2 linked regions of the Homo sapiens genome follow. The protein of the gene in region 1 interacts with the protein of each later gene in a biochemical or structural test. Each region holds a gene or a part of one and is shown on either strand. Other genes may lie near its edges.

The links.
Region 2: the proteins of MUTYH (region 1) and RPA1 form a complex in vitro, tested with the Homo sapiens proteins (one study listed by BioGRID).

What each region holds. Positions count from the first base shown.
Region 1 is NC_000001.11:45,329,659-45,333,470, reverse strand, and holds part of MUTYH (adenine DNA glycosylase), read left to right. Parts: coding exon 1-58; intron 59-146; coding exon 147-186; intron 187-300; coding exon 301-374; intron 375-511; coding exon 512-553; intron 554-636; coding exon 637-708; intron 709-783; coding exon 784-897; intron 898-982; coding exon 983-1,080; intron 1,081-1,160; coding exon 1,161-1,305; intron 1,306-1,384; coding exon 1,385-1,448; intron 1,449-1,621; coding exon 1,622-1,810; intron 1,811-1,914; coding exon 1,915-2,051; intron 2,052-2,136; coding exon 2,137-2,289; intron 2,290-2,913; coding exon 2,914-2,955; intron 2,956-3,402; coding exon of another isoform or gene 3,403-3,405; exon of another isoform or gene 3,406-3,582; intron 3,583-3,812. UniProt on the Homo sapiens protein: Involved in oxidative DNA damage repair. Initiates repair of A*oxoG to C*G by removing the inappropriately paired adenine base from the DNA backbone. Possesses both adenine and 2-OH-A DNA glycosylase activities.
Region 2 is NC_000017.11:1,832,860-1,836,671, forward strand, and holds part of RPA1 (replication protein A 70 kDa DNA-binding subunit), read left to right. Parts: intron 1-3,812. UniProt on the Homo sapiens protein: As part of the heterotrimeric replication protein A complex (RPA/RP-A), binds and stabilizes single-stranded DNA intermediates that form during DNA replication or upon DNA stress.

The sequences.
Region 1 (3,812 bases):
AGGGAGCCTGCTAAGCTGGTACGACCAAGAGAAACGGGACCTACCATGGAGAAGACGGGTAGGCAGGCGAGGAGCAGGGACAGTGGGTGGGAGGCAGGCACCCAGCCCCCTCCACCCTAACTCCTCATCTGGGGTTGCATTGACAGGCAGAAGATGAGATGGACCTGGACAGGCGGGCATATGCTGGTCAGTACATCTCCTGAGAGCAGGGCCACTTTGCCTCGAGGCCCTTGGGTCTGGGGGCTGTGGGCCAGGTAGGGGCAGGTCAGCAGTGTCCTCATGCCAACCCCTTTCCCCCAGTGTGGGTCTCAGAGGTCATGCTGCAGCAGACCCAGGTTGCCACTGTGATCAACTACTATACCGGATGGATGCAGGTGACTCCAGGGGAGGAAGGGAAGGGTCATGGGTCAGACCCCAGATGAGAGCCTCTACTTTGGGGTGGGTGTAGAGAAGGCTTCCTCTACCACCTTCACCCTTGACCTTGTCTCTTTCTGCCTGCCTGTGGCTATAGAAGTGGCCTACACTGCAGGACCTGGCCAGTGCTTCCCTGGAGGTGAGAGCCACCCTAGGGTAGGGGAAATAGGAACAATAGAGGGACTGACGGGTGATCTCTTTGACCTCTGATCCTACCCACAGGAGGTGAATCAACTCTGGGCTGGCCTGGGCTACTATTCTCGTGGCCGGCGGCTGCAGGAGGGAGCTCGGAAGGTAAGGGGATGGCAGGAGGGTAGGAACCCAGGAGTCTTGGGTGTCTTATAATCTTGAGTCTTGCACTCCAATCAGGTGGTAGAGGAGCTAGGGGGCCACATGCCACGTACAGCAGAGACCCTGCAGCAGCTCCTGCCTGGCGTGGGGCGCTACACAGCTGGGGCCATTGCCTCTATCGCCTTTGGCCAGGTGATCTCACAGCCCACCCCCACTTTGTGCGTGCCCAGCCTCCTTCCTCCCAGCCCAGGCTAACTCTTTGGCCCCTCTGTGCCAGGCAACCGGTGTGGTGGATGGCAACGTAGCACGGGTGCTGTGCCGTGTCCGAGCCATTGGTGCTGATCCCAGCAGCACCCTTGTTTCCCAGCAGCTCTGGTAGGATGTTGGGGTAACAAGGGTGCTTCAGGGGTGTCTGCAAAGGAGCTCTGCTTCACAGCAGTGTTCCCTTCTTTTAGGGGTCTAGCCCAGCAGCTGGTGGACCCAGCCCGGCCAGGAGATTTCAACCAAGCAGCCATGGAGCTAGGGGCCACAGTGTGTACCCCACAGCGCCCACTGTGCAGCCAGTGCCCTGTGGAGAGCCTGTGCCGGGCACGCCAGAGAGTAAGCCTACTGGGGAAGGGGCAGTGAGAAGTCCTAAGGAGTGACTCTGCCCTATGACACTCAACCCTGTGCCTCTCAGGTGGAGCAGGAACAGCTCTTAGCCTCAGGGAGCCTGTCGGGCAGTCCTGACGTGGAGGAGTGTGGTGAGCACCAAACCTAGCCCCCACCCCAACCCTTCCTGGCCCAGTCAGAAGCCCCATTCCAGTTCTTCCTCTAACCTGAGTAAGATTCTGCAGAACCCGGCCAAAGCCCACTCTCTAGGTTGGCCCCTAAAGCCCTCTTGGCTTGAGTAGGGTTCGGGGATCTCCGTTCCCAGCTCCCAACACTGGACAGTGCCACCTGTGCCTGCCTCCCTCGGAGCCCTGGGACCAGACCCTGGGAGTGGTCAACTTCCCCAGAAAGGCCAGCCGCAAGCCCCCCAGGGAGGAGAGCTCTGCCACCTGTGTTCTGGAACAGCCTGGGGCCCTTGGGGCCCAAATTCTGCTGGTGCAGAGGCCCAACTCAGGTACCTGGATACTGGGCGTGGAGGGCAGTGGCATGAGTAACAAGAGAGAATGGAGGGAATCGGCAGCTGAGGCCTGACCCCTGCCTGGCTGCCCTCCCTCTCAGGTCTGCTGGCAGGACTGTGGGAGTTCCCGTCCGTGACCTGGGAGCCCTCAGAGCAGCTTCAGCGCAAGGCCCTGCTGCAGGAACTACAGCGTTGGGCTGGGCCCCTCCCAGCCACGCACCTCCGGCACCTTGGGGAGGTAAGTGAGCAGCGGAATAGCCAAGGATGTTGGCTTTTGAGGCTATATCCACAGGCCTATTTGAACCCCTTGACCCTTCCTCCAGGTTGTCCACACCTTCTCTCACATCAAGCTGACATATCAAGTATATGGGCTGGCCTTGGAAGGGCAGACCCCAGTGACCACCGTACCACCAGGTGCTCGCTGGCTGACGCAGGAGGAATTTCACACCGCAGCTGTTTCCACCGCCATGAAAAAGGCACTACCTTTGTTGTCTTTGTTGTACTTCCTTGTGTTTCCTACATGTTCTACATGAATATATTACTGTGTAAACAGGAAAAAAAGCATTTTTTTTTGAGACGGAGAATCGCTCTGTTGCCCAGGCTGGAGTGCAATGGCGCTATCTCGGTTGACTGCAACCTCCATCTCCCGGGTTCAAGTGATTCTCCTGCCTCAGCTTCCTGAGTAGCTCGGATTACAGGCGCCCGCCACCATGCCTGGCTAATTTTTGTATTTTTAGTAGAGATGAGGTTTCACCATGCTGGCCAGGCTGGTCTCCAACTCTTGACCTCAAGTGATCCGCCCGCCTCAGCCTCCCAGAATGCTGGGATTACAGGTGTGAGCTACCACACCCAGCCATGATTTTTTGTATTTTTAGAGATGGGGTTTCACCATGTTGGCCAGGCTGGTCTCAAACTCCTGGCCTCAAGTGATCCACCCGACTTGGCCTCCCAAAATGCTGGGATTATAGGCGTGAGCCACCATGCCTGGCCAAAAAAGCATATTTTAAACAAAAGTACTGGGACATGAAGTTAAGGGCAGAACACCGGTTTATCTCTTTTGCAAAAAGTGCCAGCCCTCACCTCCCTGTCTTCTTGTCTAGGTTTTCCGTGTGTATCAGGGCCAACAGCCAGGGACCTGTATGGTAAGTCTCCTAGGCCTCTCCCAACCGTGTCTCCCCAGGCCTGAGTCCATAGGTTTTTAGTCAGTTAACTAACGAATGTCTGGGTGAACATTCTCCACTCCAGGCTTCACTGGAGGGAGGAATAGTTCTTGACCTGGAGACCTTCCATTGTGGGGTGCAGGGTAGAGGGAAAGGAAAAAAATGATGAGGACTCTCCAGTGTCACAGGTGTGTGAAATGCCTGTACTGAGTTTTGTGGGATATGAATTGTGGAGCCATCAGTTCTTTTTTTTTTTTTTTTTTTTTTTTGAGACAGTCTCACTGTCACCCAAGCTAGAGTGCAGTGGCCCGATCTCGGCTCACTGCAATCTCCCACAACTGGATTAAAGCGATTCTCCTGCCTCAGTCTCCCAAGTAGCTGGGATTACAGGTGCCTGCTACCACACCCAACTAATTTTTGTATTTTTAGTAGAGACAGGGTTTCACCATGTTGACTAGGCTGGTCTCGAACTCCTGACCTCAAGTGATCTGCCCATCTTGGCCTCCCAAAGTGCTGGGATTACAGGCGTGAGCCACCACACCCATCCATGGGAGCTATCAGTTCTAATTGGGAGACGGATCAGGAAAGGCTGTTTGGAGGAAGCAGCTGGTAATCTTCGTCCTAGAAATGAATCCTTTTCTTCAGGTTTGGGAGGGGAATCAACCGTAGCGATGTTCTTTCCAGTCCCAAGAGTAGTGTGAGCAAAGGTGGAGCCCAGTGCAGGCTGCAGTGCTCAAGGAGCTGTGAGCAGTTGGTTTAGCTGGAAAGGTCAGCAGGGCCTGCTGGGTCAGTCAGGGTGTGAGCCCTAGGCTGCTGACTCATTTTAGGTGGAGGAGAGA
Region 2 (3,812 bases), on another chromosome or scaffold:
TTAATAATTGCAGTTTTATGTTTGTTGATTTATCAGTTTCTTTTTAAAATTTTAAAATTATTGTGTTTGTTTGTTTGTTTGTTTTGAGACAGAGTCTTGCTCTGTTGCCCATGCTGGAGTGCAGTGGCACATTCTCGGCTCACTGCAACCTCTGCCTCCCGGGTTCAAGCGATTCTCCTGTCTTAGCCTCCCTAGAAGCTGGGATTACAGGTGCCCACCACCACACCCTGCTAATTTTTGTATTTTTAGTAGAGACAGGGTTTCGCCATGTAGGCCAGGCTGGTCTTGAACTCCTGGCCTCGAGATCCACCCACCTTGGCCTCCCAGTATGCTGGGATCACAGGCTTGAGCCACTGTGCCTGGCCTAATACTTTGTGTAAATTCCATGAGGCCTGCAATCATGTCTGGGTTATTTTACTCTGCATTGTATCCCCAATACCTGGAGAAGTGCTGGCAAGTTTTAGGTGCTGAATAAATGCTTGCTAGTTGCATGAATGAATGAGGCAGTGGGAAGAAAGGGACAGGTGAATGGGGAAGAAAGGCAGCTTGGGGGAAAAACAGGAACAGGAAGAACTATTGTTGGACTCAAGTGAATATTTAAATAAATTAGGAATGTGTGAATGCTGAAACCGGGGAAGTGATTTTAAATTGTAGCTTTCATTTACTTTATAGCTGCTACCTTGTGTCTTTAAGACAAATTAAGAATGTTTCTAGGCCAGGCGCAGTGGCTCACGCCTGTAATCCCAGCATTTTGGGAAGCCAAGGCAGGCAGATCACCTGAGATTGGGAGTTTGAGACCAGCTTGGCCAACATGGAGAAACTCTGTCTCTATTAGAAATACAAAATTAGCCAGGTGTGGGGGCGCATGCCTGGAATCCCAGCTACTTGGGAGGCTGAGGCAGGAGAATCTCTTGAACCCGGGAGATAGAGGTTCCGGTAAGCCAAGATCGCACCATTGCACTCCAGCAACAAGAGCAAAACTCCATCTCAAAAGAAAAAAAGAAAAGAATGGTTCTTCACTTTTAAAAAGACTGATCATGGGCCAGGCGCAGTGGCTCATGCCTGTAATCTAAGCACTTTAGGAGGCCAAGGCAGGTGGATCACTTGAGGTCAGGAGTTCGAGATCAGCCTGGCCAACATGGGGAAACCCTGGTCTACTAAAAATACAAAATTAGCTGGGTGTGTTGGCGTGTGCCTGTAATCCCTGCTGCTTGAGAGCCTGAGGCAGGATAATTGCTTGAACCCGTGAGGCAGAGGTTGCAGTGAGCCGAGATTGCACCAGTGCATTCCAGACTGGGCGACAGAGTGAGACTGTCTCAAAAAAAAATAAAGAATGATCATGGAGATATTTAAATAATTTGATAAGTTTTTTTATTTTTTAGAGATGGGGTCTCACTCTGTTGCCCATGCTAGTCTCAAACTCCTGGGCTTAAGCGATCCTCTCGCCTCAGCTTCCCAAAGTGCTGTGATTATAGATGTGAGCCACTGCACCTGGCCATGTTTTTATATTCAAAATTTTATAAACCTATTTCCAGCGTAGGTGAAGTATTTTGTTCATAAATGAAGAATGAAAGTTTCACATGTGTTTGTGGTGATGGAATGAGTTGGAGAACCTTTGCTGACTTTCATTATCAGCTAAAGCAGGTATCATTTTCGTTCAAAAGACACAGGCCACAAAGGGTACGCAAATACCACACACATGTGAAGGCGTTTGGGCAAGAGTCACATGATAAAATAAGAGATGATGCATAGAACTCTTGTGGTCAACAGAATACATAGCATTTGTATCTTAATTATATAACGAAAGGGGAAGGGAACTAATGTTTTTGACTATTTCTAATGTGACAGATGCTTTAGTAGTCAGTACTTAAGTAACCCTAGAAGATAGCTATTATACTCCCATTTTACAGAGGAAGGAAGTACAGAGAGGTTGAATAATGTGTCCATGGGGTGAAGATTTGAACACATGTGCCCTTGAGTATTACATTTGTTGCTTTATATACTTACTAGGGATTTTTTTTTTAAAGGGTCTCACTCTGTTGCCCAGGCTGGGGTGCAGAAGCACAATCTCAGCTCACTGCAACCTTCACCTCCCAGGTTCAAGTGATTCTTTTGCCTCTGTCTCTCGATTACAGACGTGCGCCACCACGCCCAGCTAATTTTTGTATTTTTAGTAGAGATGAGGTTTCGTCATGTTGTCCAGGCTGGTCTTGAACCCCTGGCCTCAAGTGATCTGCCGCCTCGGCTTCCCCAAGTCCTGGGATTACAGACTTGAGCCATTGCACCTGGCCGTAATTTTTTTTAAATGACAGAGTCTTGTTCTTTGTCTCTCAGGCTGGAGTGCAGTGGCATGATCATAGCTCACTGCAACCTCCAACTCCTGGGCTCAAGTGATCCTTCCACCTCAACCTCTCCAGTAGCTGGGAGTACAGGTGCATGCCACCATGCCCAGCTAATTTTTTTTTTTTTTAATTTTGTGTAGAGATGGGGTTTCGCCATCTTGCCTAAGCTGGTCTCTAACTCTTGGTCTCCAAACAGTTCTCCTGCCTTGCCTCCCAAGTCTTTGGGATTATAGGCATGAGCCACTGTGCCTGGCCTTGTCCCTTAAAATGAGTTACATTTGTAAACAGCTGATTTCTTTGGAGCATCGTCCCCATATACTTTTCTTTCATAAGTGATCTCATCCTTCTTCCACCCAACCTTCCCCTTGAATTTGTTGTTTGTTGTTGTTTCCATTTTAGCAGAATTCATGTTGCTCTGATAGGGGCTCTTTTCAAACTGATGTCTTATCCTTCTTAGTACCTCAAACTAGGTCTTGTTCAGACATGTTATAACAAGTTAGTATGAGTTTATTTTAGTGCAAAAAAAATTTTTGAAATGCATGCATAGTTTTTTCATAATGCACATTTTTCGTGTACTTTTTGAATCCCCCTCATACATGCACGTGGTTTTAAAATCAAACGGAACAGAAAGGTGTTCATGGCCGGGCATGGTGGCTCACATGTGTACTCTCAGCACTTGGGGAGGCTAATGCAGGAGGATCCCTTGAGGCCAAGAAAGAGTTTGATACCAGGCTGGGCAACATAGCAAGATCCTGTCTCTATTTCATTTAGAAAGAAGAAAGAAAGAGGTGTTTAATGTAATTACTGACCTCCTGCCTTACCTTGTCCAGTACTGTTCCCCAGAATAACTGCTTTTTAGAAAAATCACTGTCATTGACATTTTGCTTACGTATAGTAAATTGCACCTTTTTTATTTATTTATTTATTTATTTGAGGCAGAGTTTCCTCCTGTCACCCTGGAGTGCAGTGGCGTGATCTCAGCTCACTGCAACCTCTGCCTCCCAGGTTCAAGCAGTTCTCATGCCTCAGTCTCCTTAGTAATTGGGGTTACAGGTGCACGCCACCACCTGGCTAATTTTTGTATTTTTAATAGTGATGGGGTTTCACTATGTTGGCCAGGCTGGTCTCGAACTCCTGACCTCAGATGCTCCTCCTGCCTTGGCCTTCCAAAGTGCTGGGATTACAGGCATAAGCCACCATGCCCGGCCAAATTGCACGTATTTTAAATGTACAGCTTGATGAACTTTGACAAATGTGCGCACCCCTGTAACCACATTGCCCCTGTGGAGATATAGAATACTTCCATCAACGCACAACTCCTCTTGCTCCTTCCCCACCTCCATCCTCACCCTAGGCAACCAGTGTTCTGGTTTCTACCTTTGTAGGTTAGTTTTGCCTTTCCTAAGACTTCATATAAATGGAATCAAATAATATCTATCCTTTTGTGTCTGGCTTCTTTCAGCAGTTTTT